Homo sapiens: one gene and its partners. The protein of the gene in region 7 purifies or fractionates together with the protein of the main gene of each other region. This does not show direct contact. Each region holds a gene or a part of one and is shown on either strand. Other genes may lie near its edges.

Region 1 (3,500 bases), on a different chromosome or scaffold from region 7:
GAATATCTCCAGAGACTGTATTCTAAGCTAGGATTACTTATTGTCTATAGGAAAACATGCTTATTCATTCCATGAGCAACAATAATTATATCAAACTTGCTACATTTTCAGGGTTACATAATACTTATTACTTCATTTATATATCTAACATTTCAATAGAGCCAAAATTTTTAAGTAAGGTGATGTGATCTGGGCTATGCATGTGCATATATATATTTAAAAAGTGAAACACTGCTTGAACAAATATAATTTGAAGACAAAACATACACAGTAATAGAGCTGCTCATGCAGAAAGTAATGATAAGCAGTTTTGCACATTTCTCTTTCTCATCACCATAAAAACAAATCAAGGTTAGTCTAAACTGTTCATATCATTCCATTTCCCTTGTCATTTGTTTAGGCATGCACATGTGATGCAACCTTGGCAATGAAATCTGGGTATAAGTCTGCTGGAAGGATCCATGGAAAGTTTCCCTTGGTCTTATAGAAAGGACTAAAGATAGGGCCTGGTCTTTGGCTTTTTGAATGCTGTCTCATGAGAAATGATGCTTGGAGCTCTTGCATTACAGAAAAATGAATGGAGAGTCCTGACATTGGTAAGCCATGAAATTCACCCCAGAACAACCCCACCTCTGAACTTCCTGTAAGTTAATAACTTTCTCTCATTTTTTTAGCCAAAAAATGGAGGTGTAATTAAAAATCTAACCTATAACCAGTATCAGAATTATAGCTAATCTTCAGTGTTTTATGTCTCCCTAACAGTATTTCTTCAAAATCAGACAATATATTAAAATAATTTTCTCACTACTTTCTAGGTTTTTCTGTTTTTTTTAAATACATATTTGTTATATAATCAGCCAAGGATGGTGTGCTCAACTTTACAAAAGTGATATAGTTAAGGTTCTCTGCCATTTTTTCTTTGACTTTATCATGTCTTTTTCTTCACACTGTGTATATCCTTCTCCATCTACTCCCTTTAGACATGAACTATAACTTAAGATATTAATGATGATTATGCTCTTTAAAATTATTTGTGTGTGTATATAATTTATCTTGATAATAAAAAAGTGAGAAGTGTTGCAACATTTTTATTTTCAACTTGTTCCTTTTCTTCCTTCAATACAATTTCATATTCTGGGAATACCTTCTCCTTGTCTACATATCTCCTACTTTAATGTTCTTAAAAATAGAATTCATGACCTTTAGAAAATCTTCAGGAAATGAAGATAGGACCCTTAAAATGATTGACAAGAATTAATGTATCTTCTGCTCTGTATTTGTACTCATAATCTAGCCCCTATGCCCTAATAATTTAAGATTTTAGGCTACTGAGTGGCATATTCTACACAGCTCCTAAGTTATTAATAGTGTACAAAGAATGTTAGATTTTTTACTTATTTATTTATTTATTTTGTTTATTTATAGAGCAGGTTATAAGACCGGCTAATTTTTTTTCTTTCTTTCTTTTTTTTTTTTTTGGAGACAGAGTCTTGCTCTGTCATCCAGGCTGGAGTGCAGTGGCATGATCTTGGCTCACTGCAACCTCCACCTCCCGGGTTCAAGCAATTCTCCCGTCTCAGCCACCTAGTAGCTGGGATTACAGGTATGTGCCACCACGCCTGGCTAATTTTTGTATTTTTCGTAGAGACAGGGTTTTGCCATGTTGGCCAGGCTGGTTTCAAATTCCTGACCTCAAGTGATCCTCCGCCTTGGCCTCCCAAAGTGCTGGGATTACAGGCGTGAGCCACAAAACTCAGTCTAGATTTTTAAAAATAACCTTAAAATATATTTCTCAGCAGATCTCATTTTGAAAGTGTCAATAATATTTCAGCCTGATAATCTAATGTGTACAGTGGCTCCAAGGTAATAGATTTTATTCCCCCTTAAAAGACCTAGGTTTTGCTTTAGATTTCTAAGCCCAAGCTACATATACGTGTAAATTAAGTGAGAATACTGGTAGGTAATCTTCAAGACAATGATAAAGGACATCATGACTTCACCGAGTAAATGAAGGCATCAAGAGTCCAGGAGAGTTCCCTTATAATTGCTTAGGGGAAAATCAGCAGGATTAAGGGATAATGGTTTTCAAAACCTCATCTGAATTGGCTAGTACATACGGCAAAGGAAAGCGAGATTTTCTAAGCTGACTTCAAGCTGTATTAACCAAAATAGTATTTTAATGTTATGGCAGATTATTTCTGAATGAAATATATCTTCATATTTTGTCCCATACTTTCATAATTTATATTCCTTTAAAGGTGCATAGAATGACATAATTTGTAAGTTAATTTAGCTGATGTCTTATAATGTCCATACCAGGTAAGGTTTGAAACTGCTAATTGGGATAACAGGAAATTACTTGTCTTTTCTCAAATGTCAGTGAAGCAGGTCAAGACAATTAATATGCAAGCTGACTTTTCAGTCAAAGGAAAACAAGACAGGTCTCATTTGTGTACTTTTAGTACCATCCATTTCAGACTAAAATGAGTTCAGCCTAAGAAAATCACAGTATGACTCAGTTAAATAATTGAATTTCAAAATAAGGCAAAAGGTAGTTCAACTACGAGAACACAGATTGAAGTCTGTTCTAAGGAAGGCTAAATATATACTTTATAAGCAGGGCCAAATTCCATACCCATAAGGAAAATGAAAAACAGCTAAGGCATGGATTTAGGTATATCTTGCTTCTTAGATTGCTCTGTAAGCTCATAAGCACTATATAACATATATTGTGATATAAGGTAAGATAAAACGTAAATGATAAGAAAGAGGTTTGGTTGATGACATAATTCTTCACCCTTAAAGCATATGACAGACTATATTTTCATGTTTTCTTCCATTATTTCTTTTGGCCACCTGATACTTCCTATTTTTAATTTCTTGGCAAACTGAGAAAAACGTTTGGAACTAGACATTAAACTTATTTCCTCTGCAGTTCTGTACTTGATGACTACAATTCACTTCAGGAGGTCAAACTGAATGCTGGCCTGGAGCAGGACAGTAAGTAACACACTGCTGTTGGACTTTGATTTTTAAAAGCACAGGTTGCCTGCTGAACTGTGTGGCAGCACAGTAAGCGCTCTGTGTTGGAGGACATGTACAGGACGTTAAGGCTGATGTAATGGCCACAGCTTCGTTTCCGTGTATAATTTTTGCTCTGCTGACATAACACCAGACAGCTTGATTTGAACAAGCAGCCTGAGTACTTACTCCTAATGGTCAATCCAGGGAAGCCATGAACATGACATCCCATAACTAGACCTTAAAGATTCTTTTGAAAACACTGGTTTTTAAAGCTGATGTTTCCTGAATAAGGTGTTCATCAAATTGCCCACTCCTAAATATTAGAAATAGCAATGCAGAAAACCATCATTAGAACAAACATACATTTCATTGAATAATAAGCATCTTCCAGGAAAGGATGAATGCACTACTCTGTTACGAACAGTTTGAAGTACACGGAGAAATCAAGTGGCAAGATTTATGGAAAAAATACCCAG
Region 2 (4,535 bases), on a different chromosome or scaffold from region 7:
CTGATCCAGGAGGTCCGCTGCAGCGGCCAGGAGCTGAGCAGGTAGTGGCTGTGCTTCCCTGGTGGCCTGCTGGCCGTACCACGCATGCAGGCACTGGGCTGCAGTCGTGGAATCAGCACGCAGGCCTCTGCCTTAGTGCACAGTGGCAGGCAGTAGACACAAACACATTGTACGTCTGGTGCGCCTACAACATATGGAGAAAGATCCTGTAAGGAGGAGAGGGCTTGGCAGTGGGTTGCTGTTTTTTGTCAAGGGTGAGTCAGGGAAGGCCTTTGTGAAAAGATGCCATTTGCTCAGAGAGCTGAATGCAGTGAGGAGGTGAGTGCTGCAGCTACCTGGGAAAGATCATTTCAGGCAGAATGGGCGCAGGCCCTGAGGCAAAGTGGCTTAGGCCTGTGCCGGACAGAGCAGGGCAGTGTATCTGGAGAGGGGGCTGGCAGGATACCAAATCACATCGGGCTGCAGAGTCAGTGTGAGGACTTTGGGTTTTCCTCTGAGTGGCATGGGAAGCCACTGGGAGATTCTGAGCAGAGGAGTGGAATTAGGATTAGAGAGCACATGGAATTCTTAACCATGCTTGTCACTTCTTGGTCCACACTCTTGTGACTGAGGGTGGAATTGGCCTGCTCTGTGGGGTTTGAATAAGTTACCCTGAGGTAGAATTAACCTGTCCTTCTCATGCCTGTGGGGCCTTCTCAGGGTGCAGGAGGAGGTGAAGTTGAGGCAGCAGCTGCTCTCACAGAATGACAAGCTATTGCAGTCTCTCCGAGTGGAGCTGAAGGCGTATGAGAAGCTGGATGAAGAGCACAGGAGACTGAGAGGTACTGAGGCCCTTCTCACCTTGAGGCTACTGTGCTTTGGGCTGTAAGACCACCCGACAGCTGGCTGTAGGCACAGGAGGGCAGAGCTCAGCCCTCTCCACTCTGGCCTTGTGGGTAGAGTGGATGGGTGTTGAAGCTAGCTCTTTGACCCACTCTTCTTCTGAAGGAACAGCAGGAAACATAGAAGGACTGAGGCTCAGCACCCAGGCCAGCCGAGGTCCGGGTTCCCACTCACTTGTTCCCAGCTATGTGACCCTCAGTAGGCCACTTCACCCTTTGAGCCCATACCTATCTCTGTAAAACATGTCTCTCAGCACCTGTTGTGTGGAGAATTGTGTTGAAAATTGAATGAGACCATTTATTAAAAGCATCCTAGCAAGATACCTGACACATAGTAGGCACCCAGGAAATGACCTTTATTATAATCGTCCTGCTAGTATATGTTACTTTTTGCCCACTCATTCAGCAAACATTTATGGACACCTCTCACGTGCTGGGCATTGCTCTGGGGATGGTTGTTGGCCTCGTTGCTCTCTGTATCCCAGGAGAGATACCAGCTCAGAGTGCTTCAACTATAACGTCTAATGTTTCAGAATCAATTTTGAGGTGTGGTGAGGTGTTTTTTTTTTTTTTTTATTTTACTAATTTTCCAGATGGTTTCTCTCTATTGAAAGTTTATCTAGAAAGGGGTCATCTCACAGCTTTTATTTTCTCCTCAACTTGCTTTTTTTATTCTTGCTGTTGTGTCTTTTTAATATAGTGTGGCTCTTAAAATCATCCCCTTTCATTCTATAATTCTAGCCCAAATAGATTTTATTACTACTAGACATAATTTCGGGGTTTGGTGTGCAATTTGCTAGGCTTTTATGGCCAGAAGCGAAAATTAATTTCCAGCTCTTATTTAGCGTGTGGAATAGCAGCAATTAAGTCTGCCAATATTTTTGTTTCTAAAGTCAAGTTGTTATTTTAAACTGTACCTAGTTCTTAGGAAGGGGGAGGGCGATGGTGGTGGTGAGTGTAAAATGCGATTGAGTTCCTTCGATGGCTGACCCTTTGGTTGTGGAAGATGTCAGGGCTTCTCTTTGCACATGTCCTCAGAGGCGTCGGGAGAAGGCTGGAAGGGGCAGGATCCTTTCAGGGACCTGCACAGCCTCCTGATGGAGATCCAGGCTCTGCGCTTGCAACTAGAAAGGAGCATCGAAACCAGCAGCACTCTGCAGAGCAGGCTCAAGGAACAGCTGGCAAGGGGGGCAGAGAAGGCACAGGAAGGAGCCCTCACTCTGGCTGTCCAAGCCGTGTCCATCCCTGAGGTGCCCCTTCAGCCTGACAAACACGGTACTGCCCCTGCCTCTCCCCACTTGCTGAGAATGCAGCTCTGAGCATCTGTGTGTGACATGTGAACTTCTGAATGATGCCTTTGCCCCACAGAGGTGTCTTTCCATTGATAGCTGACATGCTGTACCCTAGGAGCCAGGGGACCTGACTGCTAATTAATTAGCGGTCACCTTGGGCAAAGTGGCGTAATCTCCATCTGAGGCATCTTGATTCTCAGGGAAGTGGAATTTGGACTTCCAGACACCCTCAGTGCCTCTGGCCTTGCTCCCTCCTATCCATTTAGTCCTGCCTGCATCACTTTGATGCTGAAATTTCTTTTAGTTTCTCTTACTGCCTTTAGAAGGGAACCTAAACATCTTAATCTGGCTTTCAGTGTCTTTCAGGATCTGAAAATCATCCTGATAGGTTTAAAAAGTGGATCTGTTTTGCATTTGTGTGCAGGTTAATTGCCTAGCCCTGGAGAGGCTGTGGGGGGTACGAGAAAGAGGACCAGACACCTCTACCACCCGCCCACCCAGGGTGTGGAGCAAACCAGTAAATGGTTAGACTCCAAGCAATCAGGCAGCCTGTCCTCTTTGCTCTAGAGATGAAAAACAAAGGCCCAGAGAGTGGATGGGGCTTGCCCAAAGTGGCACAGCAAGTAGGCAGCAGAGCTGGAGCTAGAAACCATTTCCAGCTTCGAGTCCAGGGCTGTTCCTAAACCCCACTGGACTCTCTGGAGCGTTGGGTATCCTGGGATTATCATCCTGACACCCATAGGGTAAATGTGTGTATCCAGTGGGATGAGGAATGCCAGCCTGCTTTACAAGCAAGTATTGTACTAAAGTTTGGACTGACTTTTACTTGGATACCTCTAGTTAAAAAAATAAAAATAAATCTCTTAAGGAGCACCTGGTCAGTCCGCTCGTAGTGATTAGTTCATTGATTTCTCATTGACAAGGATCTTAAAATTTAATCAAAAAGATGATGTAATAATATGAAAAAAGTGAACAGAGAAAAAAAGTTCATGATTCTACACATTGATCATTTTTTAAAATTTGCATATTTTTTCATTTATTAAATATGAGCATGAATTTATATTTTTCAAATTGGATTTTGTGTCATTGTGTGTCCTTTCTTTGTTTTTGCCCAATATTACATCATACATGTTCCCTGTGCTTTCACATGGGCTTCCTAATGATTGTTTGCAGGCTATTCTCAGTCACCAATCCATGACCCCGTTGATTTATTAAAGTGGTCTCTGATTTGGAGCCATAATAGACATCAATGTTAATATGCTTTTTGCTGTTAAATAATATTCTTAGGAGAAAACCCTACAAGGGGAACCTCATAAGTTTGGAAAGGTGCCATATTGCCACCTTCTAAATAGTCTGTACATCAGCAGTGTACAAAGGTAGTGGTTTTTGTGTGACCTCAGCATTGGGCATTACTATTTTCAACACGGGTCTGCACCTGGCCCTTTTTAAGGCTTTGAGGAGATGGGATTCAGGAACTTGTGGGGTAGGCTAGGGGAGTTTGAAGCAGGGAGAACAGTTCTGTGCTTGGGGTACCCAGGAAGGAGAGTTGGGTAGCTGAAGTGAGGAGGCCATCAAACAGCCTTTACCTGCTTTTGAAATTTGCCGAAAGCAGCCCTCATCATGCCTGGCAAGAGGCATCCAGGAGAGCATTCAGAATTCACAGTGCTGCCTCAGCAGAAAAGTTTTATAATTTCCTTGAGTCAAGATCAGAATTATAGGCAGCAGCATTTCTTCCTTTGCAAAAGACTTCTCAGGTCTGTATTTAAGTGCATCTGTTTTAAAAATTCTGTTCTAAAGGCTGATGTCTTTCACTGAGAGTGATTCCTCTTGGGGCCAGCTCTATGGAGCTGACCTCCTGGCTCCTTGGCCTTAGGAACTGTAGCACACCCCTGGGAAATGCTGGAGTGCAGTCAGCCCACCGCCCAGTGGTGCAGGAGCTCGGAAGGGGGATCCTAAGCCCTAGGCTTCCTTGCTCTGTGCCACTGACATGCTGGGTTATGCTGGACAGATCACTTTCTATCTCTGCCCCTTGGTCTCCCCTTCCATGAAATCTGAATTACAGTGTGTTTTGCCCACTGAGCTATTGAGTCCAATAGCTTTTCATATGTGAAAGTGCTTTCCAAATTATAACGTGTTGCACAGGTCATCTGTACAGCATCTATTGGTTTTGCCTCCTTACAGTGTTGCAAATACATCACCCCCCAGATCCTATTGTGGGTTACTCTCATCTCTAGCTTAGGTTAGTGTGGCAGCCTCCAGACTTACTCTTTCAGTACAAAATACAGACCTCAGCTTGACATTGCCTTGCCCAAAGCCCTTGAGTGGGCCCCTCAGTCCTCTTGGTTCTGGCCTTGCATTCTAC
Region 3 (4,471 bases), on a different chromosome or scaffold from region 7:
TGCATTTACAAACCTTGAGCTAGACACAGAGTGCTGATTGGTTGTTTACAATCCCTTAGCTAGACATAAAGTTTCTCCAAGTCCCCACCAGATGAGCTAGACACAGAGCATTGATTGGTGCATTTACAAACCTTGAGCTAGACACAGGGTGCTGATTGGTGCATTTACAAACCTTGAGCTAGAAACAGAGTGCTGATTGGTGTATTTACAATCCCTTAGCTAGACATAAACGTTCTCCAAGTCCCCACCAGATTAGCTAGATACAGAGTGCTGATTGGTGCATTTACAGTCCCTCAGCTAGACATAAATGTTCTCCAAATCCCCACTAGACTCAGGAGCTCAGCTGGCTTCACCCAGTGGATCCTGCACCAGGGCCGCAGGCGGAGCACTCCTCAGCCCTTGGGCAGTTGATGGGACCAGGCGCCGCCGAGCAGGGGGTGGCGCTCCTCGGGGAGGCTCGGGCTGTGCAGGAGCCCACGGCGGCGGGGGGAGGCTCGGGCATGGCAGGCTGCAGGTCCCAAGCCCTGCCCCACAGGGAGGCAGCTGAGGCCCGGCAAGTATTCGAGTGCAGCACCAGCGGGCCGGCACTGCTGGGGGACCCGGTGTACCCTCCGCAGCTGCTGGCCCAGGTGCTAAGCCCCTCACTGCTCAGGGCAGGTGGCGCCGGCCCACCACTCCGAGTGCGGGGTCGCCGAGCTCACACCCACCCGGAACTTGCGCTGGCCGGAGAGCACTGCGTGCAGCCTGGGTTCCCGCCCGCGCCTCTCCCTCCACACCTCCCTGCAAGCAGAGGGAGCCGGCTCCGATCTTGGCCAGCCCAGAGAGGGGCTCCCATAGTGCAGCAGCAGGCTGAAGGGCTCCTCAAGCATGGCCAGAGTGGGCTCTGAGGCCAGCGAGCAAGGGCTGCCAGCATGCTGTCACCTCTCACTTCCTTCTCTCTCTCTTTCTTTCATTTTTGAGACAGGGTCTCCCTCTGTCACCCAGGCTGGAATGCAGTGGAGCAATCTCAGCTCACTGCAGCCTCCACCTCCTGAGCTCAACCCCTCCCACCTCAGCCCCTACCACCTCCCCTCATCCTCCCACTTCAGCCCCTCAAGTAGCTGGGACCACAGGTGTGCACCACCATGCACAGCAAGTTTTTTCACTTTTTGTAGAGGCAGGGCTTGCTATGTTGCCCAGGCTGGTCTCGAACCCCTGATCTAAAGCGATCCTCCTGCCTCAGCCTCCCAAAGTGCTGGGATCACAGGCATGAGCCACCGCACCCAGCCTCCTGCTTTCTTTCTGCATCTCCCTCTGTTCCTCCTCTTGTTCATTTGTTCATTCATTTGACAAACATTCAGTGACACAGTCCAGTGCCAGAGCCCCCTCCTGGGTGCTGCAGATGTGGAAACGGGAAGCAGCCCCGATTCCTGACCCCTTGCTCTCATAGAGATCATGTCTGAGAACAGAAAAATGGGGCTTTTTTGTGGCTGTGCCGGGCCCAGGTCCTTCATCTTTCAGCTCCCAGCTGAATGTGGCCGTCTTATCTTATTTTCAGCAGCAAGACCCCGAAGGCCAGAAGGAAGAAACGGCAGGTCATGCAGTGACCCAGTGATAGAGTAGAACTACTAATTAGAGAAAGAAAAAGGTGGCCACAATTATGTAGCACTCATGGTGTGTGACGCCCCTTTCTAAGCACGTTAAACATATTAATTCTAATCACAGTCCACAAGACAGGTTCTGCTATAAGCCCCATTTAAAGGTGAAACAGATCCAGAGAGCAAGAAACTTACCCAATAATCACAGCTTGTAAGTGGCAGAGCTGGGATTTTGGAACTCATGCTGCCTGGCTATAGAGTCCTTGCTCTTAGCTGCTAAATGTCTGTCATCTGAGTAGCTGGCATGCTGGTTAAAAGTAAGGGGGATTGCCGGGCGCCGTGGCTCACACCTGTAATCCCAGCACTTTGGGAGGCTGAGGCAGGCGGATCACGAGGTCAGGAAATGGAGACTATCCTGGCTAACACAGTGAAACCCCGTCTCTACTAAAAATGTAAAAAATTAGCCGGGCATGGTGGCAGGCGCCTGTAGTCCCAGCTACTAGGGAGGCTGAGGCAGGAGAATGGCGTGAACCCAGGAGGCGGAGCTTGCAGTGAGCCGAGATCGCGCCACTACACGCCAGCCTGGGCGATAGAGTGAGACTACATCTCAAAAAAAAAAAAAAAAAAAAAAAAAGTAAGGGGGACTTTGGCCTCAGGCTGTGATCTGGATCCTATTTCCACTTGTCTTTTCACCTCTCTGTCCTGCCATTTTCTTTTCTTTTTATTTTTTATTTTTGAGCCAGGGTCTTGCTCTGTCGCCCAGGCTGGAGTGCAGTGGCGCGATCATAGCTGACCGCAGCCTGCAACTCCTGGGCTCAAACGATCCGCCCACCTCAGCCTCCGAAAGTGCTGGGATTACAGGTGACCATGCCCAGCCTCATGTGCAGCTAATTTTTTCATTGTTTGTAGAGAAGAGGTCTTGCAATGTTGCCCAGGCTGTTCTCAAAATCTTAGCCTCAAGCCATCCTCCTGCCTCTGCCTTCCAAAGTGCTGGGATTGCAGGTGTGAGCCACTACGCCCAGCCCCAAAATATACTTTTTTATTCATTTGTTTGCCTCCCCATGAGGACAGGGACTGTTGTCTGTATTGATCATTTATTGAGCAGCTCGTGTGCGCCAGGCCCTGTGCTAGGCCCAGGGGATGCAGCAGTGGACAGAAAGACAAAAACTCCTGTGTTCTCAGAGCTCACATTCTAGAAAGGGAGTCAGACCCTCAAGCAGATAAGGACCTAATTATAGGATAGCAGCTGTGCAGCCCGGAGGTAAGGCGGGGTCAGGATGCGGGGGATGGGGCCATCGTTGAGCCAGGTTGGCCAGGGAGGGCCTCTCTAGGAGGTGACCTTTGAGCTATAGCTGAAGGAAGTGAAGGAGTCAGTCTGTGGCTGTTGAAGAGGGAGGGATGGTTGTCAGCCCAAAGGTCCTTGGCTCCCTCCCTCTCCTCTGGGTCTTTACTCAAGGTCACCTTCTCAATGAGAAGATTCTGTACCACTGCACAGCCCTCAGGCAGTGATCTGGATCCTATTTCCACTTGTCTTTTCACCTCTCTGTCCTGCCATTTTCTTTTCTTTTTATTTTTTATTTTTGAGCCAGGGTCTTGCTCTGTCGCCCAGGCTGGAGTGCAGTGGTGCGATCATAGCTGACCGCAGCCTCCAACTCCTGGGCTCAAATGCACGTGCCCGCACACACACACACACACACACACACACACACAGAGTTGGAGACCAGTGTGCCCAAAGTAACAGGTTGGGAACAGTGCACACACACACACACACACACACACACACACAGAGTTGGAGGCCAGTGTGCCCAAAGTAACAGGTTGGGAACAGTGTTCATGCAGGGTAGTCATGACAAGGACGTTCCATTTTGTTCTAAGAGCCACAGGTGGGAAAAAGAGGGTCTGGGCCGGGCACGGTGGCTCACGCCTGTAATCCCAGCACTTTGGGAGGCCGAGGTGGGTGGATCACAAGGTCAGGAGTTTGAGACTAGCCTGGCCAACATGGCAAAACCCCGTCTCTACTAAAAATACAAAAATTAGCCGGGCATGGTGGTGGGCGCCTGTAATCCCAGCTACTTGGGAGGCTGAGGTAGGAGAATCACTTGAACCGGGAGGCGGAGGTTGCATTGAGCCGAGATCCTGCCACTGCACTCCAGCCTGGGCGACAAGAGCGAGACTCTGTCTGAAATAAAAAAAATAAAATAAAAAAAAAGAGGATCTGACCCAAGAAGGTGTCCACTGGCTTCCCCTGGCTGCCTGTAGGGAATAGACTGGGGACACAGGTGGAAACAGGGAGAGCAGGGTGGGCTCATGGAGAACAACTGATGCAGGAAAGGTCAGATTCAGGATCATCTTGAAGTTGGAGCCACAGAAATTGCTGCATCGTGAGATGTTTCTCATCTCAGGAAACATCACCACCATTGACTGCATTGCTCACGCTGCAGACCTTGAGTCCCAGGCTGTCTGGCATCTTGGGGAAAAGCATGGCCTCTGGAGCCAGCTGCATGGTTCCAGATTTTAAAATCCTACTTCTGATGCGGCATGGTGGCTCACACGTGTAATCCCAGTGCTTTGGGATGCCAAGGTGGGAGGATCGCTTGAGCCCAGGAGTTCAAGAGCAGCCTCGGCACAGTCCCAGCCACTCAGGAGGCTGAGGTGGGAGGATTGCTTGAACCTGGGAGTTCGAGGCTGCAGTGAGCCATGATCGTGCCACTGCACTCTAGCTGGTATAACAGAGTGAGACCCTGTCTCTAAAAACATTAATGAGTTAATTTAAATAGTTCATTACTCACTACTCACCAGCCAGTGTGACCCCCTTGGGCAAGTGCTTAACCTCTCTGTGCCTTAGTTTACCCATTGGTAACACAAATAGTAATAGGACCTAGCTGGTACGGTTG
Region 4 (4,535 bases), on a different chromosome or scaffold from region 7:
TTTCCCCTCTCTCTTATATAACTCTTGTTGAAATCAGTCTATAGATACATGTTCCTTGTACAGAAATAAACAGAGAGCTAATAATTAGTGAAACGTCTTTGGGTTATTCTTTGACATACATATTAATAACAGCCCCCTGAGGGAGGATTCTATTATTGTCTGCATTTTATAGATGAGAATGTGGAGGATCAGAGAGGTTAAATAACTTGCCCAAGGCCACACAGCTGGTAAGTGGGGAGAGAAGTATGCCCCAGGCAGCCCCACCTGTCCAGACTCCATGACCTAATGCTCCTTCCTTTCTCAGGCATAGCCCAGGAAGGGCAGCAGAACCACCCTGAAGTGGCTGGAGTGTGGGTCACACCATCTCTGCACTTCCCTGAGGTGATCTTGAGGAAGGATGGCTGATCCTATGCCTGCTTCTCACTCCCTGGGACTGCACTGAGGCCAGAGCCTGTACCCCTCATACTCAGATCACCCTCTGGAGCTCCTCAGGGCCTGCAGGAGAAGGTGCTGACTCCTCTGTGTTCAGACTCTACATCCAGCCCACCCCTCGCTGTCACACACTGTCCCCTCCAAGCACAGACCCTCTCTCTCCTGGCTCTCTGCCTGGCCGTTTTCCTTCACAAGGAACCAGAGAAAAACTCTTCCTTCCCAGAGACCCTTAGGACCCCACCAGAATCATCAGTTCATCCCGGTGGCCTTTGCTCTAACTTGCTGTGGGATCTCTAGATCCGTGTGACCCCATGCAGGGTCAGGGGCTCCCTGAGGAGTGGGGGCCAGCTAGGGTCCCTCCATAGCCCCATCCCCAAGGAAGGGGCTGAGAAGACAGGGTCCCAGGAGCCGCAGTGGCTTTTCCAAGGAAGGAGCTGACAAGATGCTCGCAGGAGCCCCAGTGGCTTTTCCTGGGGAAGGGGGTGTTTTCACAGTATGTGCACCTGCATTTGTGCATCACTGCACAAGCAACACACAAGTGGCTATGTCTTCACGTGTGGGAATGTGTGTCCACATCCACATGTGTGTGCTCATCTGCACCTGTGTGTCCATGAGTGTGCACACATGGAGGTGCCTGTGTGCACGTACAGTTGCATGCTCCTGAATTGAGGTATGTGTGTGCATCTGCATCTTTGTGTGGGGCTGTGGGTGCACCTGTGTGGCCAGGGTGTCGGAGTTGGGGTGTGTGGCTATGAGTGACCCTCCTTGGGGCCACTCCTTCCTGTAGCTATAAGTGCATAGTTACAGCTGAGAAAGGGCAACACTGACAGTCATAGAGGCCTGCGGATCTTAGGGTGCCCCTGCAGCATCCCTCCAAGTTCACCATGGCGAGGGAGGTGCACTGTACCTTTGACTGGAGCCACTACCTCAAAACCCTTCTGCCTGAAGCTCCAGCTGAGCCCCACCTCGGCCCTCTGCCACCAGCATCCATCAGCAGTCTTGGTGAGCAAACAAAGATGCCTCTTGGAGCTGCTGCCTAGGGGTGGGGTTGTTCAGTGGTGGGTGGGTGCGCCTACCCTGGGTAATCTCTGAACGGCAAGACCCTGGTTTTGGGGTCAGGCAGACTGCAGTTAAATATTAGCTCAGCTTCTTTCTGTGAACCTCAGTTTCTTCATCTGTCAAATAAGACAACAAACCCCTGGGTCATTAGAGGACTGAATGGGGTCAGGTTGCCACAGTAGATGCTCACTCACTGGGAGCTGCAGTGATTATGAAAATACTTATTATTATTACAAGTCCAAGGGTCTGCACCTGAGGAAGTGTCCTGAGGAGTGGGCTGACAAACTGGTTGAGAGCATAGTGCCCCAAGTCTGTGTAGGGTGTGGACGGCTACAGATGGAGCCGGGATGGGGGTGAGGGGATAGGGCAGGGCTGAGTGGCATGGGGGATATGCCCACTTAGGGTAACCAAGGGCTCTTCTGTGTGTGAAGCCATGGGGACATCCAGGGCTAGTACCTAGGATGAGGGCGATGAACACCTGCCCGAGGGACTGCATCTGTCCATTCACAGCCGCCTTGCCATCCCAGAGCTCTCGCCTCTGCCAGTGGGCTGCTGGGCCTCCCTGCTGCTGTAACCCAGCCAGCCCAGGGTCTCCTGCAGTGTCCCACCAGGGCTTCTCTTCTGCCTTCCTGGCCTGAGACATTGGTTTTGGTCATCCTTAAGGAGCCTCTTCTGGTAGAAGTGGTTGAGCTGGCTGCCCTGGGCTGGCTTCCCGGAGCAGATGGAGTCCTCAGACAGAGTCTTATCCTCTCAAGACCTGAGGCTGCCCACCCGGCCAGGCCGACACTGGGCTGTCATCCTATTGCTTGCCTGTCTTCTGCTGCCGCAGGGCCTGCAGGAAGACACTTTTCACCTGGCCCAGGATCTCATGGTACATCCGGAAGTCCTCCTCCTTTCCCCGCAGGGCACTGCCCAGGGCAGCCTTTAGCATTTCATTCTCCTCCACCTGGATGGCCAGCCTGGACCACAGGAGACAGTGCTCAGTGTGGCTGGAGCTGCACACAGGTGTGCGTGGGTGACAGAGGGCCCTGGGAATGTGGTTGCCAGCATGGCTGCTCTTCAGGCTCAGGCTTCCCTCTGACCCATCCCCTCCTCTCACTGACTCTTGTGGGTACCATGGATTCCTCTCTATGGGCCTGGCTCCCTGCAATGTAAGCTACCTCAAGGCCCCTTACAAATTGAGTTCCAATTTGTAGAGGTTCCCGTCTTTCCCTTCCCATGGCTGCGTGGGGTCTTAAAAGGTTTAACGTAGTGAGAAACTGGTTCAGTGATCCATGCTTGATAAAATTTCTCTTGGACTATGGGTCATTGGGGTTTGGGCCGGGCCCTCTGTCCTCTGAAGGCCAGTCCCTGAATTGCAGGCCTAGAACCCAGGACCAAACAGGACAAGCCTTCTGGGCAAATGAGTCAAAAGTGCAAGGGGAGGGACACAGTCCCTCTGCCCATGGAGGCACCTCTGCTCAGACAACCCTACCCTTTCAGGAAGGCGGGGCAGGGGAGCACCTGGTTGTCAGCTCTTCCATTTGGGATTCCACGGGCACATCGGAGAGCTGGGCAAAGGATGGGTCCTTCTTCTCGCTCCCGGTTGGGTTGTGCCTGTTGTTAGAGGTGGGCAGACCTGTGGGGCAGCAGCAACCACTTTCTGTGAGGAGGCCACAGCCCTGTGCTAGCACCCTGCTTCTCCTCCCGCCATTGCCCACTGCCTGCTCTTCCACATGGTGAAACGCTACACCGCCTTCGGGGTGCAGGGCAACTCTGAGCTCTGCCTCCCTCCGAAGCCCTCCCTGATGCCTCCTCTGCATGCCTCTGCCCCTGGCTTTGGCCTCTGCTACAGCCCTGACTCTGCTCGCTTTGTACCAGGGTGGTTCCTCACCACCCTGTCTCCATCTTTATACTTTACAAGTTTCTGGTAATTTGTTTTCTTTTTTTTTTCTTTTTTTTTTTTTTGAGACAGAGTCTTGCTCTGTCACCCAGACTGGAGTGCAGTAGCGTGATCTCAGCTCACAGCAATCTGCGCCTCCAGGGTTCAAGCGATTCTTGTGCCTCCCGAGTAGCTGGGACAACAGGTGCCTGTCACCATGCCCAGCTAATTATTGTATTTTTTGCAGAGACAGGGTTTTATCATGTTGGCTAGGCCTCCCAAAGTGCCAGGATTACAGGCGTAAACCACCATGCCCAGCCTGGTAATTTGTTTTCAAAAAGAGAAACCAGCTGAGCCTGAGGTCTGGCCTGCAGGCTGAGCCCGAGTCTAGACTGTCACTGTACCTGATGCCCTCATACCAGTGGTCCCCATCCAGGCCATCAGCTTCATACTAGGAAGCAGGGGATCCAGGGTCCTGGAGTTGAAGGGTACAGAATGTTCACAAAAAGGAGACAAAGTGGCCCACGGTGGGGTGGTCCCAGAACTTTGGGAGGCCAAGTGGGGGCAGATTGCTTGAGGTCAGGAGTTCAAGACCAGTCTGGCCAACACGGTGAAACCCTGTCTCTACTAAAAATACATAAAAATTAGCCAGGCATGGAGGCATGCACCTCAAGACTAGTCTTGTGTAAACCTGTCTCATTGCTGGGGAGGCAGCAGAGTGGCTCTGCCCTCTACAGGGGCTGGACTGAGTGTTCTTCAGGGCCTTTCCTGGCTCCAGGGGACACTGCTAAGCTGCCCTTGGCTTATTCCACGCATTGAGCACCTCCACATCCCCAACTAGAGCTGCCCTGGATGGGAAACTGCTTGTTCAGCCTGATGGAATTTTCTAAGCCCTGTGACACAGGGAATCAAAAAGAGCCTCAGCCGGGTGCGGTGGCTCATGCCTATAATCCCAGCACTTTGGGAGGTCTAGGGGGGTGGATAATTTGAGGTCAGGAGTTCAAGACCAGCCCGGCCAACATGGTAAAACACCATCATTACTAAAAATACATAAATTAGCAGGGTGTGGTGGCGAACCCCTGTAATCCTAGCTACTTGGGAGGCTGAGGCAGGGGAATTGCTTGAACCAGGGAGGTGGAGGTTGCAGTGAGCTGAGATCGCACCGCTGCATTCCAGCCTGAGG
Region 5 (4,535 bases), on a different chromosome or scaffold from region 7:
CGCATGCCTGTAATCCCAGCTACTCAGGAGGCTTAGACCCGAGAATCATTTGAACTGGGAGATGGAGGTTGCAATGAGCTGAGATCACACCACAGCACTCCAGCCTGGGCAACAGAGTGATATTATGTCTTAAAAAAAAAAAAAGAACAAATATATTTTTTAAAAATCCTATCCCGTTTCCTGGTGTAGTAGCTCATACCTATTATCCTAGCACTTTAGGAGGCCGAAGCAGGAGAACTGCTTGAAGCCAAGAGTTTAAAATCAGACTGAGGAACAAAGTGAGACCTCATCTCTACAAAAAATTAGCCAACCATGGTGGCATGCACCTGTAGTTGCAACTGCAGTGACCTATGACTGCACTGCTGTACTCACAGACCAAGAGACCAAGACCCTGTCTTTAAAACAAAAAAACCCCTCTATTCCTCCATACCATATTGTTTGGCTGTTTGCAGTGCACGATTCAGCTTCCCTGCAGGAACTGTTGCAGTGACAAGGGGACTGAGTGTCCAGAAATGTGGGCCGCAGCACTTGCCTCAGGCTTACTATCACCATAGCAAAGACTCAGAGGTATTTTAACTTGTGAATTCATCAGTTGTTAGAAATAAATGGGCTTACCTCTGTTTGCTCAAAATCTTCTCTAGTTTGGCATCCTCTGCAGTTTGAAGACCTAGTGTAGAAGTGAGGGGGCAGACTGTAGCCAGATATTGGACAAGCTGGATGTGCTGGCCAGGCCGATATGCTCTCCCCTTGCCTTGACTATAGAGCCATTCAGCTTTCAAACTGGAATTGGGGAACATAAAAAAGAGGAGATGGCATGAGAATAGTCAACACACATTGTCAGGCAACAATGATCTTCCTTGTTAACTTACCTTTATAGCACCATTGTATGTTTTTCATAAATAAAATTCACTCAATTTTTTTAAAAAATCTATCATTCTGACTCATATTCACCATTCTAATAATGTTTCAAACCCTTTTTCTTGCTTAGGGGCACTTCCATTGAGCTTGGACTAATGGTGCCAAATATTTTTAAATCATTTTCAAGGAAGCAATGAGTATTCTCCCCATTCATTCTGTCACACTGAAATGCCTAAATAGATGAACTGCATTTGAATCCATTAGTTCATAATGACAGTTAAAAGAAAAAAAAAAACTAGCCGGGCATGGTGGCATGTGTAATCTCAGCTACTCAGGAGTTGGGGTGGGAGGATCACTTGAGGTCAGGTGTGTGAGGCTATAGTGCGCTATAATCATACCTGTCAACCTTATAGTCCACCAACCTTATAGTCCACCCCTCAAAAAAAAAAAAAAAATCAAACCTGAATCTGAACAAACATCCATATCCAATTTACAGAAAATACAAAAGGGAGAGGAATATGTCAAAGGACACAGGGATGTAGTTGGTAAAATGAGCAGATAATGGGAAACTCTATAGGACAAATACTCTGACTTCTTCAACTACAACCAAAAGAAAGAAAGAAAAGCAAGGGAGAGAGAGAGAAAAGAAAGCAAAGAAAATAGAACAAAGACAGATAGATTGAGAGATTCAAGAGAGTCATCTTGGACATCTAGCCAAGTTAAGCCTTCGGATGACTCTAGCCCCATCTGTGATCTGAGTGCAAGCCCAGGAGGCCCCAAGAAAGAACTGCTCAGTCAGCACAGCAAATCTACAGAGTATGCCATAATAATATACTGCTGCTTTAAGACACTAAACAGAGTAAGAAAGAAACTTAAGAAATGTATCAACCAAATGTGACATAAGGCTGTAATTATTTGAATTCTGTTTCTAAGATACAAAATTCATTTATAAGGATTGAAAATATAAGACTGAATATCTGATATTAGGGCACTTGGTTAATTTTTTTTAAGATGTGATAATAGCATTGTGGTTGTTTCTTTAAGAGTTCTTCTCTTTAGAGACATATACTGAAATACTAACAGGTGAAATGATATGTAATCTGAGATCCGCTTCAAAATAGTACAGAAGAAGGGAGAGTGAGTGAAGGTATAAGATGAAGCAAGGGCCAGGTATGGTGGCTTATGCTTGTAATCCCAGCACTTTGTGGGGCTGCGGTGGGAGGATTGCTTGAGCCCAGGAGTTTGAAGCCAGCCTGGACAACAAAGCAAGACTCTTGTTTCTTAAAAAAAAAAAAAAAAAAAAAAAAAAGATGGCCAAATAGGAACAGCTCCGGTCTACAGCTCCCAGCATGAGCGATGCAGAAGATGGGTGATTTCTGCATTTCCATCTGAGGTACCGGGTTCATCCCACTAGGGAGTGCCAGACGGTGGGCAGAGGACAGTGGGTGCAGCGCACCGTGCGCAAGCCGAAGCAGGGCGAGGCATTGCCTCACTCAGGAAGCGCAAGGGGTCAGGGAGTTCCCTTTCCTAGTCAAAGAAAGGGGTGACAGATGGCACCTGGAAAATCGGGTCACTCCCACCCTAATACTGCGCTTTTCCAACGGGCTTAAAAAACGGTGCACCAGGAGATTATATCCCGCACCTGGCTCGGAGGGTCCTACGCCCACGGAGTCTCACTGATTGCTAGCACAGCACTCTGAGATCAAACTGCAAGGCAGCAGCAAGGCTGGGGGAGGGGCGCCCGCCATTGCCCAGGCTCGCTTAGGTAAACAAAGCAGCCGGAAGCCCGAACTGGGTGGAGCCCACCACAGCTCAAGGAGGCCTGCCTGCCTCTGTAGGCTCCACCTCTGGGGGCAGGGCACAGACAAACAAAAAGACAGCAGTAACCTCTGCAGACTTAACTGTCCCTGTCTGACAGCTTTGAAGAGAGCAGTGGTTCTCCCAGCACCCAGCTGGAGATCTGAGAACGGGCAGACTGCCTCCTCAAGTGGGTCCCTGACCCCTGACCCCTGACCCCTGAGCAGCCTAACTGGGAGGCACCCCCCAGTAGGGGCAGACTGACACCTCACACAGCCGGGTACTCCTCTGAGACAAAACTTCCAGAGGAACAATCAGACAGCAGCATTCCCAGTTCACGAAAATCTGTTGTTCTGCAGCCACCACTGCTGTTACCCAGGCAAACAGGGTCTGGAGTGGACCTCTAGCAAACTCCAACAGACCTGCAGCTGAGGGTCCTGTCTGTTAGAAGGAAAACTAACAAACACAAAGGACATCCACACCAAAAACCCATCTGTACATCACCATCATCGAAGACCAAAAGTAGATAAAACCACAAAGATGGGGAAAAAACAGAGCAGAAAAACTGGAAACTCTAAAAACCAGAGCACCTCTCCTCCTCCAAAGGAATGCAGTTCCTCACCAGCAACGGAACAAAGCTGGACGGAGAATGACTTTGACGAGCTGAGAGAAGAAGGCTTCAGAAGATCAAACTACTCCGAGCTACAGGAGGAAATTGAAACCAAAGGCAAAGAAGTTAAAAACTTTGAAAAAAATTTAGACGAATGTATAACTAGAATAATCAATACAGAGAAGTGCTTAAAGGAGCTGATGGAGCTGAAAGCCAAGGCTCGAGAACTACGTGAAGAATGCAGAAGACTCAGGAGCCGATGCGATCAACTGGAAGAAAGGGTATCAGTGATGGAAGATGAAATGAATGAAATGAAGCGAGAAGGGAAGTTTACAGAAAAAAGAATAAAAAGAAACGAACAAAGCCTCCAAGAAATAGGGACTATGTGAAAAGACCAAATCTAGGTCTGATTAGTGTACCTGAAAGTGACAGGGAGAATGGAACCAAGTTGGAAAACACTCTGCAAGATATTATCCAGGAGAACTTCCCCAATCTAGCAAGGCAGGCCAACATTCAGATTCAGGAAATACAGAGAACGCCACAAAGATACTCCTTGAGAAGAGCAACTCCAAGACACATAATTGTCAGATTCACCAAAGTTGAAATGAAGGAAAAAATGTTAAGGGCAGCCAGAGAGAAAGGTCGGGTTACCCACAAAGGGAAGCCCATCAGACTAACAGCGGATCTCTCGGCAGAAACTCTACAAGCCAGAAGAGAGTGGGGGCCAATAATATTCAACATTCTTAAAGAAAAGAATTTCAACCCAGAATTTCATATCCAGGCATACTAAGCTTCATAAGTGAAGGAGAAATAAAATCCTTTACAGACAAGCAAATGCTGAGAGATTTTGTCACCACCAGGCCTGCCCTAAAAGAGGTCCTGAAGGAAGCACTAAACATGGAAAGGAACAAGCGATACCAGCCACTGCAAAATCATGCCAAATTGTAAAGACCATCAAGGCTAGGAAGCAAAATAAACAGCTAACATCATAATGACAGGATCAAATTCACACATAACAATATTAACTTTAAATGTAAATGGACTAAATGCTCCAATTAAAAGACACAGACTGGCAAATTGGATAAAAAGTCAAGACCCATCAGTGTGCTGTATTCAGGAAACCCATCTCACGTGCAGAGACACACATAGGCTCAAAATAAAAGGATGGAGGAAGATCTACCAAGCAAATGGAAAACAAAAAAAGGCAGGGGTTGCAATCCTAGTCTCCGATAAAACAGACTTTAACCAACAAAGATCAAAAGAGACAAAG
Region 6 (4,535 bases), on a different chromosome or scaffold from region 7:
CCAGTTGGGCATGAGCAAGCTTCCAGGAGGCGCCAGGGTCACGCGAGACAAGGTTTCTCTTTTTCTTTTTTTTTTTTTTTTTTGAGTTGGAGTCTTGCTCTATTGCCCAGGCTGGAGTGTAGTGATGCCATCTAGGCTCATTGCAACCTCCACCTCCCAGGTTCAAGCGATTCTCATGCCTCAGCCTCCTGAGTAGCTGGGACTATAGGTGCCCGCCACCATGCCCAGATATTTTTGTATATTTAGTAGAGACCTGGTTTCACCATGTTGGCCAGGCTGGTCTTAAACTCCTGACCTCAAATGATCCGCCTGCCTCGGCCTCCCAAAATATTGGGATTATAGGCGTGAGCCACCGTGTCTGGCCTGCTCACGGCAGGAGGTTTTCTGATACTTATGCCACATAGGTGGCCATCACATGGTATCACGTGACACTCTTGGTTAACTTTTCTCGCCTTTGATTTTCAAAATGTAGCTATTGCCATAACCTGGGCCCATACACTTAAAAGTGTGTGTGCATTAGTGAGAGGGTGAGGGAGGGTGTGCACACACACACGTGCAGAGAAAAAGCACTTATTTACCAACCATGAATCTAAACCATGAATGGATTATAAATTTCAATGTGCTGCATTCTTTCCAAAGACATTTTGGAGAGTTCCACAAACAAATAAATACACAGAGAACAGGAGAAATTTCATAGTAAAAGCAAACGATGTGAAAAATATTTAACTACTTAAAAAGGAACTGAAGGGAGTAAAAGTTGACAGGGATTTCATGTTGCTGTAGTTCGAAGGAACCCCCCAAAGTTCCTAAGCTGGAAACTTATTGCCACTCTAACAGTATTAAGCGGAGGGCCTTTAAGAGGTGAACAGGTCACAGGGCCAGCCCTCAGGGAGGCAGGAATGCTGTAGCACAGGGCTGGGTTCCTGATAAAGGATGAGTCTGGAACAGGTCACAGGGCCAACCCTCAGGGAGGCGGGAATGCTGTATCGCAGGGCTGGGTTCCTGATAAAGGATGAGTCTGGAACAGGTCACAGGGCCAGCCCGCAGGGAGGCAGGAATGCTGTAGCGCAGGGCTGGGTTCCCGATAAAGGATGAGTCTAGCTCCATTTCTCTGTCTTGAGCTTGCTTCTGCCTGCACCATGCTTCTGCCTGTGCCATGGGAGGACCAGCACCAGGTGCCGGCACCGTGCTCTTGGACTTCCCAGCCTCCAGAACCATGAGCCACATAAGCTTCTGTTCTTTATAAATTACTCAGTCTGTGGTTTTCTGTTACAGCAACAGAAAACAGACTAAGACACGCGTAAGTACCTGGGTGTGGGGTGAAGTACGTGTGTGGCCTGGGGGCACGGGAGGCCTCTGGCTCCGCTCCGTACAGTGGCGGAAGCTCTCCACAGAGCTGGCTCCAAGGCATCTTCTCCAGACAGCACCCTCTGCAGCTGCTCCTCCTCGTCTCACGGCCCTGCTTCCCAGAGTCCCCACACTGGTACTGTACCAACTGCGGGCTCAACAGATGTCTGGATTCTATTAAAATATTGTAAATAAAATATTTCATAAAACATTGTAAAAGTTTTATTCCATCAAAAATTACATTTTAAGCTTCTGAATAGTGTATGGTATCTGTTAGACCGAGGGGTTAATCACGTGCTGGGTGACACTGAAATGAATCCACAGTGACTTCTAACAGCAAGAGAGCTTGGAACTGGGAACTGGCGCCACTCGCCTGCGAGACTCAGGACAAGGCTGCAAGAATCCAGCCGCATGAAGTGGAGCAAAGTCAGACAAAATGATGCACAAAACAGAAGAGAGAGTCCAGACAGTCTCAATACAAAATTAGCTGGGTGTGGTGGTGGGCGCCTGTAGTCCCAGCTACTTGGGAGGCTGAGGCAGGAGAATCACTTGAACCCGGGAGGCAAAGGCTGCAGCAAGCCAAGATTGCGCCACTGCACTCCAGCCTGGGCGGCAGAGCAAAACTCCATCTCAAAATAAACAAAACAAAAAACAAAATAAACTGTGCCCTTCATAAACTGGACTGTAATGAAATTAAAACTTGTGCTCTTCAAAGCACTGTTCAGATAATGAAAAGGCCAGCCACAGAAGGGAGGAAATGGGCAGCCCTTGTGCCTGAGAAAGGGCCTGTGTCAAAACCACCAAGATCTCTTAGGACTCAATACTAAGAGAAGCAACCCCAGAACAAAGGTGGGCAGACCTGGAGAGAAAAGAAGAGACAGGCACGGCCAGTATCTCAACAGCAGCGGATGCAAATTAAAGCCATAAACACAGACCACAACCCCCTGACAGAGCAGCTAGGATTAAAGGACTCAGCTCCCAGTGCCGGCAAGGACATGGCTCGAGCACCGCTGCCACAGGGCAGACATCTTTGCACAGATGAACCTAAGATTTCAGCCCAAACTCAGGTCTCCACCTGTTGTTTCCACGAAAAGTTCTCAGAAACTCACAGCGGAGGTGGAATAAATGAAGCTAAAGCCCATCAGCACATCCCAGTGGAGGGCAGTGCCACCGGGCAACGGAGTCTCCGAGACACCCTTGCTGGGATCTACAGGTCTGCACGTGGCGGCCTGAGCTCAGGGTTTCCTGCAAGTTCGGTGACTATGCCCCCCTGCAGCTGCCGCAGATGTCAGCCCCACTTGCCACAGGACACTAGGCTTCTTGTCTGTTTTAGACAGTTTGCCTTTTCCTGTGATCTCAGAAGGATACAATTTAAACCATCATGCAGTATGACTATACTCAAATATGTTAACTTTCTCATTTATAACTCTGTAGTCCAAATGGCTGGCATTCGAAAGCACACAAAGACACATCATGAAGATCCTATCCTTCAAGGTAAGTTCCACAAAAAGAGCAACTGTGGACTCCAAGCCCAGTAACGACTATATATATCCCAGAGCCAGCGGACCCACTGGCCTCCTGGCAGATGAGCAGCGCACCTTGGGAACCACGAGAGTCGGCCTCACGCCCCTTCTGGCTGAAGCTCGTGCTCCCGGGAGGCCTGCCGAGGTCCCACTCGCACTCTGCAATGAGGTTCAGGACTGCCTCGTCATCCGCATCCATGACCAGGCTCTGCTTGGCCAAGGCCTCGGTGCACTTGGCTCTGGGGTGGTGTGGTCTGTAAGGAAAAGCAAACTCATCAGCATCACTCAAGCCAGCCATATGCTCCGGCCCACGCAGACCAGGAGAAGGAAAATTCCTGCACGGTCTCTGAGAGAAGCAGCGTGCTGCAAACGTGGGGCAGCCGGGTCCTGTTGCTTCCACTGCAGTGATGCTAAAGAGTGACTCACCAAGGACAATCGGTGAGCAACAGCCAGGTTACGTGATAACATGACAGCATCCCGGCACTGGACAGAACCCCACCAGGACTGGGCCAAATCCCAGCACTGGACAGAACCCCACCAGGACTGGGCCAAACCCCGGCACTGAACAGAACCCCACCAGGACTGGTCTAAATCCCGGCACTGGACAGCACCCCACCAGGACTGGGTCAAATCCAGCACTGGACAGAACCCCACCAGGACGGGACTAAATCCTGGCACTGGACAGAACCCCACCAGGACTGGGCCAAATCCCGGCACTGAACAGAACCCCACCAGGACTGGTCTAAATCCCGGAACTGGACAGCACCCCACCAGGACTGGGTCAAATCCAGCACTGGACAGAACCCCACCAGGACTGGTCTAAATCCCGGCACTGGACAGAACCCCACCAGGACTGGGCCAAATCCCGGCACTGGACAGAACCCCACCAGGACTGGTCTAAATCCCGGCACTGGACAGCACCCCACCAGGACTGGGTCAAATCCCGGCACTGGACAGAACCCCACCAGGACTGGTCTAAATCCCGGCACTGGACAGAACCCCACCAGGACTGGGCCAAATCCCGGCACTGGACAGAACCCCACCAGGACTGGTCTAAATCCCGGCACTGGACAGAACCCCACCAGAACTGGTCCAAATCCCGGCACTGGACAGAACCCCACCAGAACTGGTCCAAATCCCGGCACTGGACAGAACCCCACCAGGACTGGTCCAAATCCCGGCGCTGGACAGAACCCCACCAGGACTGGGCCAAATCCCGGCGCTGGACAGAACCCCACCAGGACTGGGTCAAATCCCGGCACTGGATAGAACCCCACCAGGACTGGGCCAAATCCCGGCACTGGATAGAACCCCACCAGGACTGGGTCAAATCCCGGCACTGGACAGAACCCCACCAGGACTGGTCTAAATCCCGGCACTGGACAGAACCCCACCAGGACTGGGCCAAATCCCGGCACTGGACAGAACCCCACCAGGACTGGGTCAAATCCCGGCACTGGACAGAACCCCACCAGGACTGGGCCAAATCCCGGCGCTGGACAGAACCCCACCAGGACTGGGCCAAATCCCGGCGCTGGACAGAACCCCACCAGGACTGGGCCAAATCCCGGCACTGGACAGAACCCCACCAGGACTGGGTCAAATCCCAGCACTGGACAGAACCCCACCAGGACTGGTCTAAATCCCGGCACTGGACAGCACCCC
Region 7 (4,535 bases):
TTTTCTTTTTTTCTACTGGAATTTTATGCTACTGAGGCTATTTTTAACAAATGAACAATTTTGAACAATTTGAGGGATTGAGGGAAGTATGATAATGACAAAAAGGGATGAAAAAAGGGGGTCATAGAGATGTTTTTGTGAGAAGGAGTTGGTCAGTGTATTCTGATTTATTAGGGTTTTTTTTAGTTTATCTCAGATTTGATCTATTTAAATTGTTTTAGAAGATGCTGGTGTTTTTCTGTGCTAGCTATGAAATTTATGGGTAAACTTTAAGCCTTTCCTAGTCCTTTTGTTGTCTACCTAAATTCAATTAATTTCATATGGAAGGATGTAGTAAGTGAGTAATATAAATATCTAAAATTGGATGTTTGAAAACAAAACATACCTGTTTTTTGTAATAGCTTGATTTAATGCTGAGTTCTCAAAATCATTATTAAGATTTTGAACTTTCACATTCAATGTGGAAAGAATTGAGTGTAATTACAAAAGATTTATTTGAAAAAGTTGAGTTGTTAATTTGTGAAATATGTTCCATTAAACTCATAATATTTTAGAAAAATAGTAGGAAGTAATAAAGCTTGTTTATTTTTTATATCATATATTCATATAAAATGTCAGTTTTCCTTTAAAAATTACATTTTTTTTTTGGTTAATTTTTAGGCACTTAGTCGGGCACTTTTAGAACTCCGGGCAGAAATGACAGCAGCTGCTGAAGAACGTATTATTTCTGCAACTTCTCAAAAAGAGGCCCATCTCAATGTTCAACAAATCGTTGATCGACATACTAGAGAGCTAAAGGTGAACATCAACACGTGTTAATGTAACAAAATTTCTGATAATTCCTATTGGAAGAGAATTCACTATGATATATAGTAATTTTGTTGATGAATAGGGAATTTATAATGCACTGTTGGTGGCTAGACATAGACACACACATGCATTTTTCAACAATAAGTCTCTTTATGATACTCATTTACTGATTATCATCTTGGGGATTAGGAAAGGATAGGCCATTATGAACTACTGTTTCTAATGAAATTAAATTTAAGAAATATTTTACTTAGGATTTTTTTTAAGACTTTATTATTTTTTTAGAGCAATTTTAGGTTCACAGCAAAATTGAGAGGAAGGTACAGAGATTTCCTGTATATCTCCTACCCTGAAAGTGGTACATTTGTTAAAATTGATGAACCTATATTGATACATCATAATCACCCAAAGTCCAAGTTTACCTCTATTTTAGCTCTTGGTATTTTACACTCTGTGTGTTTAGACAAATGTATAATGATATGTATCCATCATTATAGTATTATACAGGGTATTTTCACTGCCCTAAAAATCTTCTGTGCCTCTCTTCTTCATTCCTTCCTCTGCACCTCACCAAACCCCTGGCAACCAGTGATCTTTTTACTGTCTCCATAGTTTCACCTTTTCCAGAATATGTTATAGATGGAAACATACAGTGTGTCCCCATCATTCTCACCATAGGACAGCTAGGAACTCCTTTCTAGTGGCATACATATTGTCTAGTATTGTAAGTTACCCTTTTATATCTTATCTTTGTAAACTAGGTTAGAAATTACTTCAAGTCAGAGATTTGTTCTGTACTACTCTTATGCTTCATAGTGTTTAAAACGTTGTCATATATATTGTTATATACTTGTTTGTTTAATTAATTCAGCCAAAATGAAACGTGCATATTTGATAAAATTTTGTTTGTGGGTGTTTGTTGAAGATGAATTGCTTTACACTAGTTTTTTTTTTTTTTCTCAAAGTCGACTTTTTTCCTCAAGGTAGACTTGACATGAATATGGAAAAATATATGTAGTTTGTGGTTATTTTTTTTCTCTTGTGTACTTAAAAATTCAGACTGAATTTTTCTTATAATGGTATATTTTCTGTTTTATGTTCCTTTTATCATTGATACTTCTTGAAGAGTCATGAATAATACCTTTCTTTTTCTCTTATTAGACACAAGTTGAAGATTTAAATGAAAATCTTTTAAAATTGAAAGAAGCACTTAAAACAAGTAAAAACAGAGAAAACTCACTAACTGATAATTTGAATGACTTAAATAATGAACTGCAAAAGAAACAAAAAGCCTATAATAAAATACTTAGAGAGAAAGAGGAAATTGATCAAGAGAATGATGAACTGAAAAGGCAAATTAAAAGACTAACCAGTGGATTACAGGTAATTTTATATTTAACTCTGATAATGTCTGATTTACAATATAGAGGTAGTAGTTTATTTCTACTTTATCATTTTATCTATGGTATTTGTTAAAACTGACTTTCAAATCACTTTGATTAATGTAATTAATTTCTTTTGTGACTTCTATTGTGTTTATAGTTCTAGAGTAGCATATTAGTATGTTGTATTAAAATGCAGAAGCAGCTACCAGATTATCTTATGTATTAAGTGTCATTTAGAAAGTATGGTCAGTGATAGCTTCAGAAAGTTGCTATTATATAATTGAAATATTTACTGTCTATTTTGTTTTACATTTATTTGTAAAAATATAAAGTTACATTTTATTTTTTAGGGCAAACCCCTGACAGATAATAAACAAAGTCTAATTGAAGAACTCCAAAGGAAAGTTAAAAAACTAGAGAACCAATTAGAGGGAAAGGTGGAGGAAGTAGACCTAAAACCTATGAAAGAAAAGGTATGTGAAGAAACATACTGACTTATATGCTTAAGGTAGTGACAGAGTAAGTTAAATACATAGCTGATTAACAGTTAATATACTGCCTTAATTTGATGACCTGGCTGTATTAATTCTGTATTAATTTTGAGGACTATAAGCAGTATTGAATAACGTAGAAAAGTCTAAGTTTCTGTTCTGTAGGAATTTAGAGTCTACTTGAGGAGATACCTATAATGTAACTCTTATTTGGAAATTACTACATCAATTTCATTCATCTTTCTGACATTAGAGTACCTCTGAAGTTCCTTCACACCTTAACATATTCAACTGTGTATCATTTCTCTCCAAAGTAATCATTTACACAGGTTGGTGCTTTTGACTTTTGGGACAGAAAGATAGACATTTTAAGATACCCCACTTTGACCCAAATAGGTCCTTTTTAATCCTTCAGGAGACTAGGCTGTTATTTCAGATAGCAAAGTTATTTGGAATATCTTCAGTATTTGCAGTAATAATCAGTAACCAATCTGCTCATAGATTAATTCTGTGGGAGAAATTGCTTAAAATTTTATAGTTCATAGTAAACTGTTTTGTAATAAAAATTACTGATTGAAATAACCCCAAAAAAAACTAAAATTGGCTAAAATGCGTGTAATTAAATTTGTTATGGACAATAAATTGGAGATAACTTGTTGGTAACATTCAAAATATCGAAAGTGAACTGGGAAATGTTGATGTTAGCAGTAATATTTGCCATTGAAGAAAATCAGTATGGAGGAGCTATGGTTAGGAAAATTTTTATTATAAAATTTACCCAGAAAATATTTAATGTCTATAAAATAATTTCAATCACATGAAAATGGAAAAGAAAATTCTGTCTTTAAAGGCATTGAATAGAAAATAGGTAATGGAATTCAAATTTCTTAATAGAGTATGCTCCCAAAATTATTTTCTATGAAAATTCATTAATGTCAGTGTAATTTATTGACACTATTTGCGTGGAGTCACAACATGCTTGCTGTCAGAAGCTTTGCTGGTGAAAACTGTAAGATCAAAGTGTCCTTAATCTTTTGGATTTCCATCTTTCTAACTCCCTAATTGGGGATAGGCCTGATCTTATCCCTAAATGGGGATAGGTTAGAAACTGGTATGTTTGTTCCTAACTGGTGTGTTTCTATACCAGTTTCTAACCTGATTCCTATCAGAATGTTTTAAGAGCCTTGTGGCTTTGCCTGGACTCTTCTATGCTACAGTTTATTTAGTTTATTTATTCAGTTTATTCCTCCTTAAAGTGGGAATAATACTATCTGTATTGCCAGTTTCTCAGGATTATTTTACATAAAATGATATGATATGCGGAAGTCTTTTGTAAGCCATCACATCCATAGCAGTATAAGATATTACTACTAACTAGAAAGAGAAAACAGGGGTCTATGCCCAGTATTAAAATTGGCATTCAGGAATCTAGTGAGAATATTTTTTCAGGTTCATTGCTTGGGCATTTCTAATTTATACTCAAGAAATGCTTTCATATTGTTTGGAAATTTTAGTACCCTTTTCTCTGTAAACAGAATTTGTAGTCTACCTATGTAACAAAACCCACCCCTGTGCCTTGCATTTCATTCTCCTTAGCATTTATTACTATCTTAACATACTAGACATGTACTTGTCTTTTGTTCATCTTTTTTTTTTCTTTTTTTATTAGACCATAAACTTTGATGGCAGGAACTTTGCCTATTTTATTTATTATTGTATTCCCAGCACCTAGAACAATCGCTGGCACATAGTAGATGCTCAGTATTTGTTGAATGAATATAAATTTTTAAATGTTATAATAATATTATTCTGAAATCTATGCATACGAAGCTTTTGGTACAGAAAACAT

The links.
Region 1: the proteins of CEP290 (region 7) and CNKSR2 purify together in Homo sapiens (affinity purification with western blotting; one study listed by BioGRID). This does not show direct contact.
Region 2: the proteins of CEP290 (region 7) and CDK5RAP2 purify together in Homo sapiens (co-immunoprecipitation; one large-scale study listed by IntAct). This does not show direct contact.
Region 3: the proteins of CEP290 (region 7) and ECH1 purify together in Homo sapiens (affinity purification with mass spectrometry; one large-scale study listed by BioGRID and IntAct). This does not show direct contact.
Region 4: the proteins of CEP290 (region 7) and CCDC13 purify together in Homo sapiens (co-immunoprecipitation; one study listed by IntAct). This does not show direct contact.
Region 5: the proteins of CEP290 (region 7) and CEP97 purify together in Homo sapiens (co-immunoprecipitation; 4 studies listed by BioGRID and IntAct, with this or other methods). This does not show direct contact.
Region 6: the proteins of CEP290 (region 7) and CEP72 purify together in Homo sapiens (affinity purification with mass spectrometry; one large-scale study listed by BioGRID and IntAct). This does not show direct contact.

What each region holds. Positions count from the first base shown.
Region 1 is NC_000023.11:21,611,918-21,615,417, reverse strand, and holds part of CNKSR2 (connector enhancer of kinase suppressor of ras 2), read right to left. Parts: intron 1-3,500.
Region 2 is NC_000009.12:120,404,633-120,409,167, reverse strand, and holds part of CDK5RAP2 (CDK5 regulatory subunit-associated protein 2), read left to right. Parts: coding exon 1-41; intron 42-699; coding exon 700-821; intron 822-1,919; coding exon 1,920-2,156; intron 2,157-4,535. UniProt on the Homo sapiens protein: Potential regulator of CDK5 activity via its interaction with CDK5R1. Negative regulator of centriole disengagement (licensing) which maintains centriole engagement and cohesion. Involved in regulation of mitotic spindle orientation.
Region 3 is NC_000019.10:38,817,794-38,822,264, reverse strand, and holds part of ECH1 (delta(3,5)-Delta(2,4)-dienoyl-CoA isomerase, mitochondrial precursor), read left to right. Parts: intron 1-4,471. UniProt on the Homo sapiens protein: Isomerization of 3-trans,5-cis-dienoyl-CoA to 2-trans,4-trans-dienoyl-CoA.
Region 4 is NC_000003.12:42,706,690-42,711,224, forward strand, and holds part of CCDC13 (coiled-coil domain-containing protein 13), read right to left. Parts: intron 3,110-4,535; coding exon 2,995-3,109; intron 2,451-2,994; coding exon 2,291-2,450; 3' UTR 1-2,290. UniProt on the Homo sapiens protein: Required for primary cilia formation and promotes the localization of the ciliopathy protein BBS4 to both centriolar satellites and cilia.
Region 5 is NC_000003.12:101,751,675-101,756,209, reverse strand, and holds part of CEP97 (centrosomal protein of 97 kDa), read right to left. Parts: intron 781-4,535; coding exon 616-780; intron 1-615. UniProt on the Homo sapiens protein: Acts as a key negative regulator of ciliogenesis in collaboration with CCP110 by capping the mother centriole thereby preventing cilia formation. Required for recruitment of CCP110 to the centrosome.
Region 6 is NC_000005.10:632,358-636,892, reverse strand, and holds part of CEP72 (centrosomal protein of 72 kDa), read right to left. Parts: intron 3,125-4,535; coding exon 2,946-3,124; intron 1,522-2,945; coding exon 1,309-1,521; intron 1-1,308. UniProt on the Homo sapiens protein: Involved in the recruitment of key centrosomal proteins to the centrosome.
Region 7 is NC_000012.12:88,075,355-88,079,889, reverse strand, and holds part of CEP290 (centrosomal protein of 290 kDa), read left to right. Parts: intron 1-660; coding exon 661-798; intron 799-1,971; coding exon 1,972-2,193; intron 2,194-2,545; coding exon 2,546-2,668; intron 2,669-4,535. UniProt on the Homo sapiens protein: Involved in early and late steps in cilia formation. Its association with CCP110 is required for inhibition of primary cilia formation by CCP110.